2 separate regions of the Homo sapiens genome follow, and region 1 is linked to region 2. Evidence: fine-mapped expression QTL. Tissue or cell type: sun-exposed skin. Region 2 holds a variant in brackets; the other region holds the start of a gene. All regions are shown on one strand. Distances are between the middles of the regions.

Region 1 (5,108 bases), 43 kb after region 2:
TGGGTCTGGGTCCCACAACCTCGTGTCTGTTTTCCCGACAGCCCCAGATACCTGTTGCTATAAGGTGACCATCCACCAGCATGAAACCCTACATAATCCTTTGCTGTGTGGGCCCAGACCAAAGCACATGGCTGGTTTCTCACCAGATGTTAAGAGAGACTGGGGGGTTGCTTTTTTCCCTTTCTGTCACTGAGAACCATTTTTTGGTGCCTATCTCCATTTCTCCGTCTCTGTCACTCAATGTGTGAGGCTCTCTGGGTCTGTCTCAGTCTCTCTCAGCCTGTGTCTCTCTGGTCATCTGCCCCCCTCCTCACCTCTCTTTCCTTTTCCCTTTTCTTGAAACGCGCAAGGGAGTTCCCTGACCTCACCCCGGGCTCTCACTTCCAGCACGATGAGTCAGCACAGGGTTAGAAACTGAAAGATCAGGATCCAGCTGTAAAGGGAGAGACTGACAACCACAGAGCAACCTCCTTAGAAGGAAGGGGCCAGGCAGATTCACGCAGGGTAATAAAAGCAGCCTTGGGTGAGCTCTCGCCCTACCAACCCAGCCCTGCCAGCTAAGGGCTGATTGCTGTTGACATTCACAAGCACAGGAGCCAGACAGAGTGGCTCACGCCTGTAATACCAGCAGTTTGGGAGGCCAAGGTGGGAGGATCGCTTGACCCTAGGAGTTTGAAACCAACCCTGGGCAATATAGTGAGACCTCATCTCTAGAAGAAAATTAAAAAAAAAAAAAAGAAGAAGAAAGAGAAAAGGAAGCACAGGAGCCCACTTTGCATTAGCGTTTGTGCAGCGATCCCTGTCAATTTCACAACATACATATAGAGCTTTAAACTGGGAGAGCAGGTGTCATGGGATCCTTCCTTGTACTACACCGAGGAGGAAGGCAGGGGAGCATTCTTAGCCCACTTTACAGATAAAGGAATGAGGCTGGGTGCAATTAAGTGACTCAGTGCAGATATTTGCACCCCAAACCCCAGTTCAAGATTCCCCAGACCCCAAGGGATTGGGGCTCCTGTGGGGTCAGGTTAATGGACTAACTGTCCAAGGCTGAGGACCAGATCAGCCAGGAGGAAGAGCTCTTGCTGGTTGAACCCAGAACTCCCCTGGGGACTGTCCGGACATGAACCAAGAGCTGGGGTTCCTGGGCCCAGACCTGAGGTGTCTGATTGCATTTATGGAACACAGATGAGAGGCTTGGAGTTCTGGCCGGGCACGGTGGCTCACGCCTGTAATCTCAGCAATTTGGGAGGCCGACGCAAGAGTTTCACTTGAGCCCAGGAGTTCGAGACCAGCCTGGGCAACATGGCGAAACCCTGTCTCTACAAAAAAATACAAAAATTAGCCAAGCATGGTAGTATGCACATGCAGTCTCCAGCTACTTGGGAGGCTGAGGTGGGGGAATCACTTGAACCCACAAGGCAGAGGCTGCAGTGAGCCAAGATCGTGCCACTGCACTCCAGCCTGGGCAACAGAGGGAGAACCTCTCTCAACAAAAAACAAAACGAAAACAAACGAGGCTTCAAGTTCTAAAAACTAAGTTCAGCAAAGCTCTGGAAAAGGTGGAGCACCCTGAGTGGGTCACTCAGCCCCTCCAACCCTCGACTTCTTCACTTGACACCTGGACATGACTGCACCCACCTCTCAGGGTTTCCCCAGGGTCTCAAGAGACCATGGGGGTGAAAGTGTATTGCTCAACGTAATCCTAGGTGCAGAGGAGGAGAAAAGGCGCGTGGGCGGCCCAAAGTTCCCAAAGCCTGCCTTCTGCCTCCTGTCTGAAGGAGCAGCCCTGAGCCTCTAAGCTCAGACTCATAGACAGGTCCCAGGAGACTGTGCTCCAAGAGACCCCTTGGGGCACAGAGCTGGAGCAGGCAGGACCTCCGAAGGCTCACTTCCTGCTGCCTAGAATGTGTGTCCCCCACTCCTTTCCTGCCAGCTCCTTTTCTTCCTTCGAGTTTCAGCTCCCATGTGTCCTCTTGGTCTTCAGAAAGTCTTCCCCATGCCCAGCTATTTTTTAATTTTTTTTATTTTTTGTAGAGATGGGGTCTCCCTATGTTGCCCAGGCTGACCTTGAACTGTTGAGCTCAAGCGATCCTCCCCTCCCGCCTCAGCCTTCCAAAATGCTGAGATTTCAGGTGGGAGCACCTAACCATTTCTTTTGTCTGTCCCCCTTCCCTAGAACATAAGCTCTAGGATGGCAGGGATTAGACTTGTCTCATGCTTTGCACGTTCCCCAAAGGCTAACACTGGGCCTGACACAGAAAAGGCTCAGTATGCGCTGAATGAATGTGTGAACGAATGACTGAATTAACGGAGATCTTGTCTGGTGAGGAGTCAAACATATAATCAATCACAATAGGATGTGTTAAATGCTGAGGTCCAGCTAAGCCCAAACTGCTATGGGAGCTTAGAAGGGCAGGTAAGTTCCCTCATCCTATGCCCTAGCCACCCCACTAAGGACCCAGGAGGAAAGAGGCACAGGATAGAGGCGAGTTACTCACCACACATCTCAGTGAGGGCCCCCAGGACCCCCAGAAGGAAGAGGAAGGCCCCAAGGTGCCTCATGGCAGCAGCAGGTGGGTGAGCAGTGAGCAAGAATCGGGAAAGACTCCTGGGGCTGGCCCTGCTGAGGCTCTCCTGACCACAGCTGGTCACCGCTCCGAGAGACGCAGCTTCCTGTCACTGATTAATCCTCCATGCCTGCAATGCACGGCTAAGTCTGCAGAGGGGTGGGGCGGGGGAAGGTCTGTGGTGGCGGGGAACATAAGGCCAAAGAACAGAGGAAGGAAGGGCAGAGCAGCCCTCCTGGAGGTAGGGAACAAAGGGAGGAGGAGGGCTAGTGGGACCATGTGAGACATCTTGAGGCCATTCACGTTCCTGCTTAAAGAGCCCGGGACCAGCGCAGAGGGCCTGATGCCTGATCTGTCAAGTCTGTCCGACCGTGCCTGTCTGCTGTCCCCCCAGCTGTTCCAGTGGTGGATTGGCAGGACCGGGTGCCTACCCGGTACTCCTTACCAAAGGAGCCCCTGGTAGTGCCCACCTAGCCCAGGACAAGGAGTGGAACGGGAGCTGCAGCTGCAGTGGTCACGTGAGCAGCATTGCTGGAGTCAGCTGTTTTTCAGCACCGCCTCCCTCAGTTGTGGCGGGAGGGGATTGTGGGGGTGGGGGAGTTGGGCAGTTGGGGAGGGGGAGTTGGGCAGTTCGGTGGGGGGGGGGAGTTGGGCAATTGAGGGGAGGGTGGGTGCCGCTGGCCCCAGACCAGCCAGGCCACTTTTCTCAACCAATCCGAAAGGGCTGGGAGCCTCCTGGAGAGGACAAAACAAAACAAGTTAAAGAATGGGATTAAGTCCGGGCACGGTGGCTCACACCTGTAATCCTAGCACTTTGAAAGGCTGAGGCGGGCAGATCACTTGAGCTCAGGAGTTGGAGACCAGCCTGGGCAACATGGGGAAACACTGTCTCTACAAAAACACAAAAAACACATACAAAAAACCATAAATTAGCCTGGCGTGGTGGCAGACGTCTGTAATCCCAGCTACTTGGGGGGCTGAGGCAGGAGGATCGCTTGAACCCAAGAGGTGGAGGCTACAGTGAGCCAAGATTACACCACTGCACTCCAGCTTGGGTGACAAAGTGAGACCCTGTCTCAAAAATAAAATAAAATAAAAAGAATGAGATTGAATCGAGACACAAAGCTACCAGAAGCAGGGGTACTTGCCAGAACTCGGAAAGTAACCTCAAAAAAAATCTCTGCAAACAGGGAAGAGAACAAAAGATTCCTCATCTGCCCAGCCCCACAGGAGAATCAATGTATACGAGTTAACTAGTGGTGGCTGTGTGACTTTGGCCAGGTCACTTAACCTCTCGAGTTTAAAATAGTTCTTCCTGTGTGAGAAGAGAGGGTTAGGCAAGATCATCCTAACAGTTCCCTTTCAGCTCAATTTGTGAAGACACTATGACCTTAAAATATCTCCAATCATTTCCATGCACAATCTGCATTGCAATTATTTTATGGTAAATTGCCAAGGTTCACTCTTTTAAGACAATCTTTTTGAGCCTGATTTATCACAAACCAAGCCCTTGACATAAATAAATACAGCAACGTGTGTCTGTTTACGGAACTACTTGAAAATTTTAAATGATAGGTTGTCCAGTCAGAAAGGCTGGATGTGGCCACTAGGAGGAGCACCCCTGGAGGTTCTGAGGAAGGAGGGAGGCCAGTGGGGAGCCCAACTTCCGCAGAACCGCACGTTTGGACCTTCAGGGGAGTCATGGTGAAGTGTGTGCAATGGAGCCACCTTGGTCCTGGGTGGGACTGCCTTGGCTCCCCCAACCCTCTGCCTGTTTCCAGTAACAACTATTATGATTCCTATTTCCAGGAAGGCAGCCTGGAGGAGGTGGCCATGGAGGATAGCCTTCGTTATCGTCAGCCTCTGGTGAGAAGCAGCAGCATCCTTCCAGAGAGTCACTTCTGATCCCCAAGGTAGTTAGGGTGTCGAAGTAAAGGAGGGAGACACCCCCCTGCCTACCTACCTGGACTCAGTGCTAGAGGGTGGGGGAGTAGGAATAGGAAGACAGCATATTTCCCATACATATTAGAAATACTGGTGGCTCATGCCTGTAATCCCAGCACTTTGGGAAGCCAAGGCAGGAGGATTGCTTGAGCCCACAAGTTTGAGACCAGTCTAGGCAAGATGGTGAGACCCTGATTCTAAAAAACAAACAAAACCAAAAAATGCCAGGGATGGTGGTGTGTGCCTGTAAGTCTCAGCTAATCTAGAGGCTACAAGTGGGAGGATCACTTGAGCCCAGGAGGCTGAGGTTGCAGTGAGCTGAGATCAGACCACTGCACTCCAGTCTGGGCGACAGAAGGAGACCCTGTCCTAAAAATAAAGTAAAATTAAAAAAAGAAATAGAGTGACTGGTCAGGGGTAGTGCTATTTCAGGTCATGTGGTCAGGGAATGTGAAAAACAAAAATGATTACATCATTTAGATCAGGATTTCTATTTTTTTTATTTTTGAACTCCTGGGCTCAAGCGATCCTCCTGTCTCAGCCTCCCAAAGAGCTGGGATTACAGGCATGAACCACTGCACCTGGCCAGATCAA
Region 2 (5,194 bases):
CACTCACTTTGGTGGACACCAACTACTATGTGTTGAGGACACTCAAGGGGCCCTATGGAGAAGCCCACATGGCAAGGAACTGAGGCCTCCTGCCAACAGCCACGTGAATGCCCCATTTTGAATGTAAATCTGAAGCCGCCTTTGCAAAATTGTGACTGATACAGTGGAAGAGATCTAACTTAATTGACTCCATCTTGCTTCTAATCTCCAAGTTGTCTTTATTCATTCCTGGGCATAGGCTGAACTAACATTCGGAGAAACTTAGTTTATAGTTTATAGATTAAAATGAAGATGATAATGGCCCTTTCCCAAAGCAGACCTCTTTCTTGCCTAGGGACTAGATTGCCTATATAGGACTAACATTAGCCACAAGATTAGAAATTATGGCTTAGGAGTCATGCAGCTGGAGGCTGCAAGATTCTGACCTTCCCTAAACTGCTCCTAAGATCAGTGCTTGTGATATTTTGCAGCCCCTGCCCTTGATGGATCAGCTGGCACCACCCAGATTGATAAACTGGCTCGTCTGATCTTGTGGCCCCCACCCAGGAACTGACTGGGCACTAGAAAACAGCTTCAACATCCTGTGATTTCATCCCTGACCAATCAGCACTCCTGTCTCACTGGCTTCCCCCAACCCACCAAGTTGTCCTTAAAACTCTGCTCCCTGAATGGTCGGGGAGACTGATTTCAGTAATAGTAAAACTCTGGTCTCCTGCACACCAGGCTCTGTGTGAATTACTCTTTCTCTATTGCAGTTCCCCTGTCTTGATAAATCAGCTTTGTCTAGGCAGTGGGCAAAGTGAACCCACTGGGGGGCCACAAATCCTCCAGCCCCAGCCAAGCTTTCAGATGACTGAAGCTCAGACCAACATCTTGACTACAACTTAATGAGAAACTCAACCAGAACCAACCCACTAAGCCACTCCCGAATTCCTGATCCACTGAAACTGTGAGATACTACATGTTTGTTGCTCTAAGCCATAAGATTTTGAGATAAATTGTTACTCTAAATCAATACAACCGATACCCACTCTGCCCTAGCACTGTCCCCACTGTCATGGAGTTACCTAGACCACAACAACAGGTCTTCCCTAGTCTTCCTGCCTCCTGTCTTGAGCCCCTCCAATTTTTTCTCTACATAGGGTCCAGACTAAATTGAAGGTCTACTTATCAAGAAATGTTTATTTTGGCCAAGCGCAGTGGCTCACGCCTGTAATCCTAGCACTTTGGGAGGCCAAGGCAGGTGGATTTCTTGAGGTCAGGAGTTCAAGACCAGTCTGGGTAACATGGTGAAACCCCATCTCTACCAAAAAAAAAAAAAAAAAAAAAAAAAAAAAAAATATATATATATATATATATATATATATACACACACACACACACACACACACACACAAAAATTAGCCACGTGTGGTGGCATATGCCTGTAATCCCAGCTACTCAGGAGGCTGAGGCAGAAGAATCACTTGAACCTGGGAGGCAGAGGTTGCAGTGAGCCAAGATTGCACCACTGCATTCTAGCCTGGGCGACAGAGCGAAACTCTGTCTCAAAAAAAGAAAAGAAAAGAAATAAAAGATCATGGCTCAAAACCTCTCGTGGTCCTCCATTAAGTGGCCCTCAATTAAGTATTTTGTGCTACTTCCAGGAAGTTATTTAGTGCAGTGGTGGAGGATTTGACATCCCTGAGCTAATTTGAGGGCAGAGTAGCATGAAGGAGCTACTCCTTCCAGGGGGCCAGGCCAAACAAGGACTCACAATCCTTGTTTGCCCTGGCCCCCTGGAATGCCAATCCAAGGGCCACCAGGGGAGGGTAGAAGGGGCACCAGGCAGCTAGGCCTGAGACAGGTCTTTGTTTCGAAGTCCACAATGGCAGGATGCCCAGCACAGACCCAGCTTCCCAGGCTTCCTCCAAAGCAGGACAAGGGGGCTGGAGGCTTGGCATCCACGCTGCTATGCTCAGGCGGGAGCATGCCTGGGGGACTCTCAAATGTGCTCTGGCAGGCTGAGGAGGGGTGGGGCAGATAACACGAGAAGCCTTGAGGAGGAAGTGGAAGCATCTGTGATAAGACTGAGGCCTTCCTAGGCCTTTGTCCATTACAGCTCCAGAAGCTGGTGGGGGATTAGGTTCCACTGCTGCCCCCACTCAATGCACAGAGGCACAGGTGGAGAGGACCTTGTGCAAGGTCACAGAGCTCAGATGTACCAAAGCCAGGATTCGAGCACAAGTCAAACTCCAGAGCCCCTGTTCTTTTTTATTTTTGTTTATTTTTTGAGATGGAGTCTCATTCTGTCACACAAGCTGGAGT[G/A]CAGTGGCGTAATCTTGGCTCACAGCAATCTCTGCCTCCTAGGCTCAAGCGATTCTCCTGCCTCAGCCTTCCGAGTAGCTGGGATTACAGGTCCCCACCACCATGTCCGTCTAATTTTTTTTTTTTTTGAGACGAAGTCTTGCTCTTGTCCCCCAGGCTACAGTGCAATGGCATGATCTCGGCTCACTGCAACCTCCGCCTCCCAGGTTCAAGCGATTCTCCTGCCTCAGCCTCCCAAGTAGCTGGGATTACAGGCGGCTGCCACCATGCCCAGCTAATTTTTGTATTTTTAGTAGAGACGGGGTTTCACCATGTTGGCCAGGCTGGTCTTGAACTCCTGACTTCAGGTGATCCGCCCCCCTCGGACTCCCAAAGTACTGGGATTACAGGCGTGAGCCACCACATCCCACCAAACCCAAGCTTTTTGACTCCCAATCCAGCGCTCTCTGTGCCCACTGCTGGGAGGGGTGATAGGCATGGCTTTGGCTGTGGCCTTGGGGGAATCACCTCAATGTCTAATGGTCCTGAATCTGGTGACAAACCAGCTCCCAGGTCACACACAACCCCAATTACCTGTCCCCACAACCACCAGGGGCAGGCTTTAATCTGATGTGAGGCTCACTCATTAGCCAAGCATCCCACAAGGCCTAGAAATGAGGGTGGTACAGGGAGGTCCCTGCTATGGCAGTGGGGGCCAGTTGGATGGGAAAGGGTCCTGAGTCACCGAGGAGGATTTGACCACAGCCATCCATCCCTCCATCCTGCCTGGCAAAGCCTGAGAGTGGAGGCCAGAGGTACCCAAGCTGCTCAGGGACTGGGCTGGGCCAGCGGCATCTCTGAGTCATAGAGAGGGTGGGTGACAGGTGACTCAGCCCAGGCCGACTTCCCCTTCTGTAAGGCAGCCTGGGCGGAGGCTGGAACCAGGAAACCCCATACCGGTCCTCCTAGGCCTTCCCTACCCACTCCCACCCCGCCGTGGGCTGGCCCTTTACTCAGCCCTGTCTAGCACTTGCTGGCACTGTGGTCCCTTACGAATTCTGGTTACTGAATCTGAATGATTCCTCCCTGAATCTCAGTCTCCATAGACCACAGCCCCAGCCTGGTCTAGCTCCTAGTCCTCACACAAATGGGAGACATTTTGCAGATGGTTTCCAGAAAGGTTGGGTGAATACCCCAAGATAAAAGCAGAGCCAGTTGGTGCCATTACCTCCTTCCTCACTCCTGGCCCTGCCCAGCGCTCCTCATTCGAACCCTCTCCATAGGGATCATCAGTTCCATTTTGCAGATCTGGAAGCTGAGGCCTAGGGAAGGGAGGCTCCCAGTCAGGTGGGCAGAGCAGGATTAGGTTCCAGGTGTTCTCACTCCAACTGGGTCCTTATCATCTTTAACAGGTGATCTCCAGGAGAGGTAGCTGGCTGGGGAGAGTTAGGTGTTACAAGAGCCAAGGAAAGGCTCAGAGGTAAATAACAAAGCTGACGCCAGCTGGCGAGTCAGGGAGCTCTGGGGGTTGGGACTCCTGTCTTAGGTTCCCTACATGGGAGCCCTGCTCCCCTATACCCCTGCAAGCCTCCTGAGCACAGTCCCTTGTCAAGACCCTCATCAGCCCTTTTTTTTTTTGAAAGAGATAGGGTCTTGCTCTGTCACCCAGGCTGGAGTGCAGTGGCATGATCATAGTGCACTGCAGCCTCCAACTCCTGGCCTCAAGCGATTGGATTTTTCTTTTCTTTTTTGAGATGGAGTTTCGGTCTTGTTGGCCAAGCTGGAGTGCAGTGGCACAATCTCGGCTCACTGCAACCTCTGCCTCCTGGGTTCCAGCGATTCTCCTGCCTCAGGTGCACGCCAGCAGGCCTGGCTAATTTTTTTGTATTTTTAATAGAGACGGTGTTTCAGCATGTTGGCCAGGCTGGTCTCGAACCCCTGACATCAGGTGATCCGCCCGCCTTGGCCTCCCAAAGTACTGGGATTACAGGTGTGAGCCACCGCGCCCGGCCTGGATTTCTCTTTTTAAAAAGAGTTGCATGTTTGGGTTTTCTCCTCCAGGCAGGGGTTTAAGCTGTGGGAAGGGAGGAGGTTGTTGTAGGAAGCGGGGACTGGACGGAGGGAACAGCATGTACAAAGGTTTCAGTGAGCAGGCCTGGTATCACGGGGAACTGAAAGAAGTCGGTGAGGCTGGAAGGCAGAGCCCAGGGGAAGGGAGACAAGCTGGGTGAGGCTGCAGGTGCCACGTCCTGAGTGAGTTGGGGTCTGGGGTAGGAAATTCTGACTTTGTCCCAAGAGCAGTGAGGAACATCAGAATGTGCACGTTTTAGTGAGATCCCTCTGGGTGAAGGGGTCTGTGTGTAAGATGGAGTAGAGGGGCCAGGCAGAGCAAGGGGGAGGCCACTGCCACTGTCCAGAAGATGGGCAATGGTAGCCCAGCCAGTGGAGGGATTTGAGGGAATGGCACTGGGCTCGGGGTGGGGGGCCAGACAGACTGCGATGGGTAAGGGAGGATGTCCTAGTTTCTGTGTGGGAAGCCTACCACTCTCCCTATATCCCCTCTGTACAACCAACAAATGACACAGGCATACAAGCAAAAATAGTGTATTTGAGGATGGATGACCCAAAATTGGGGGGCCCAGGGGTGAGGCCACAGCAGCTGCCTGGAGTTGGCACAGACTACCCCAACTCCCTAGGGGAGCCCAGCAGCATAGAAGCCCCCCTGCTGGGCCTCCTAGCTGCCTCCCCCCCAGGAGGAAGGATTGTGTAACCGCCAAGAATCATCATCATCGTCATTGTAACAAGTTGAGGTCTTCAAAGTTTGCCCAGCAATTTTTGGCATCGTAATTGATATTAATCATAATAATGACTCTGACAAGCACAGGGACTGTGCCAGGCTTGGACCCAC

The links. PIP is the estimated chance that this variant, and not a neighbour inherited with it, causes the effect.
Region 1: TCN2 starts here. The variant in region 2 is fine-mapped to the expression of TCN2 in sun-exposed skin (GTEx, PIP 0.99).

What each region holds. Positions count from the first base shown.
Region 1 is chr22:30,604,789-30,609,896 of GRCh38, reverse strand. It overlaps TCN2 (transcobalamin 2), which reads right to left and starts at 2,723. Exons shown (of 9, transcript NM_000355.4): 1 at 2,502-2,723. The coding sequence starts at 2,565. It also overlaps a transcript of PES1 not described here. RefSeq lists enhancers at 227-506, 281-575, 2,561-2,855, 2,358-2,937.
Region 2 is chr22:30,647,574-30,652,767 of GRCh38, reverse strand. It overlaps SLC35E4 (solute carrier family 35 member E4), which reads right to left. Exons shown (of 2, transcript NM_001001479.4): 2 at 4,875-5,194. It also overlaps a transcript of DUSP18 not described here. Among named protein-coding and RNA genes, the nearest start is that of SLC35E4, 14 kb to the right of the region's middle. The variant G/A (reference allele first, on the strand shown) is at 2,308.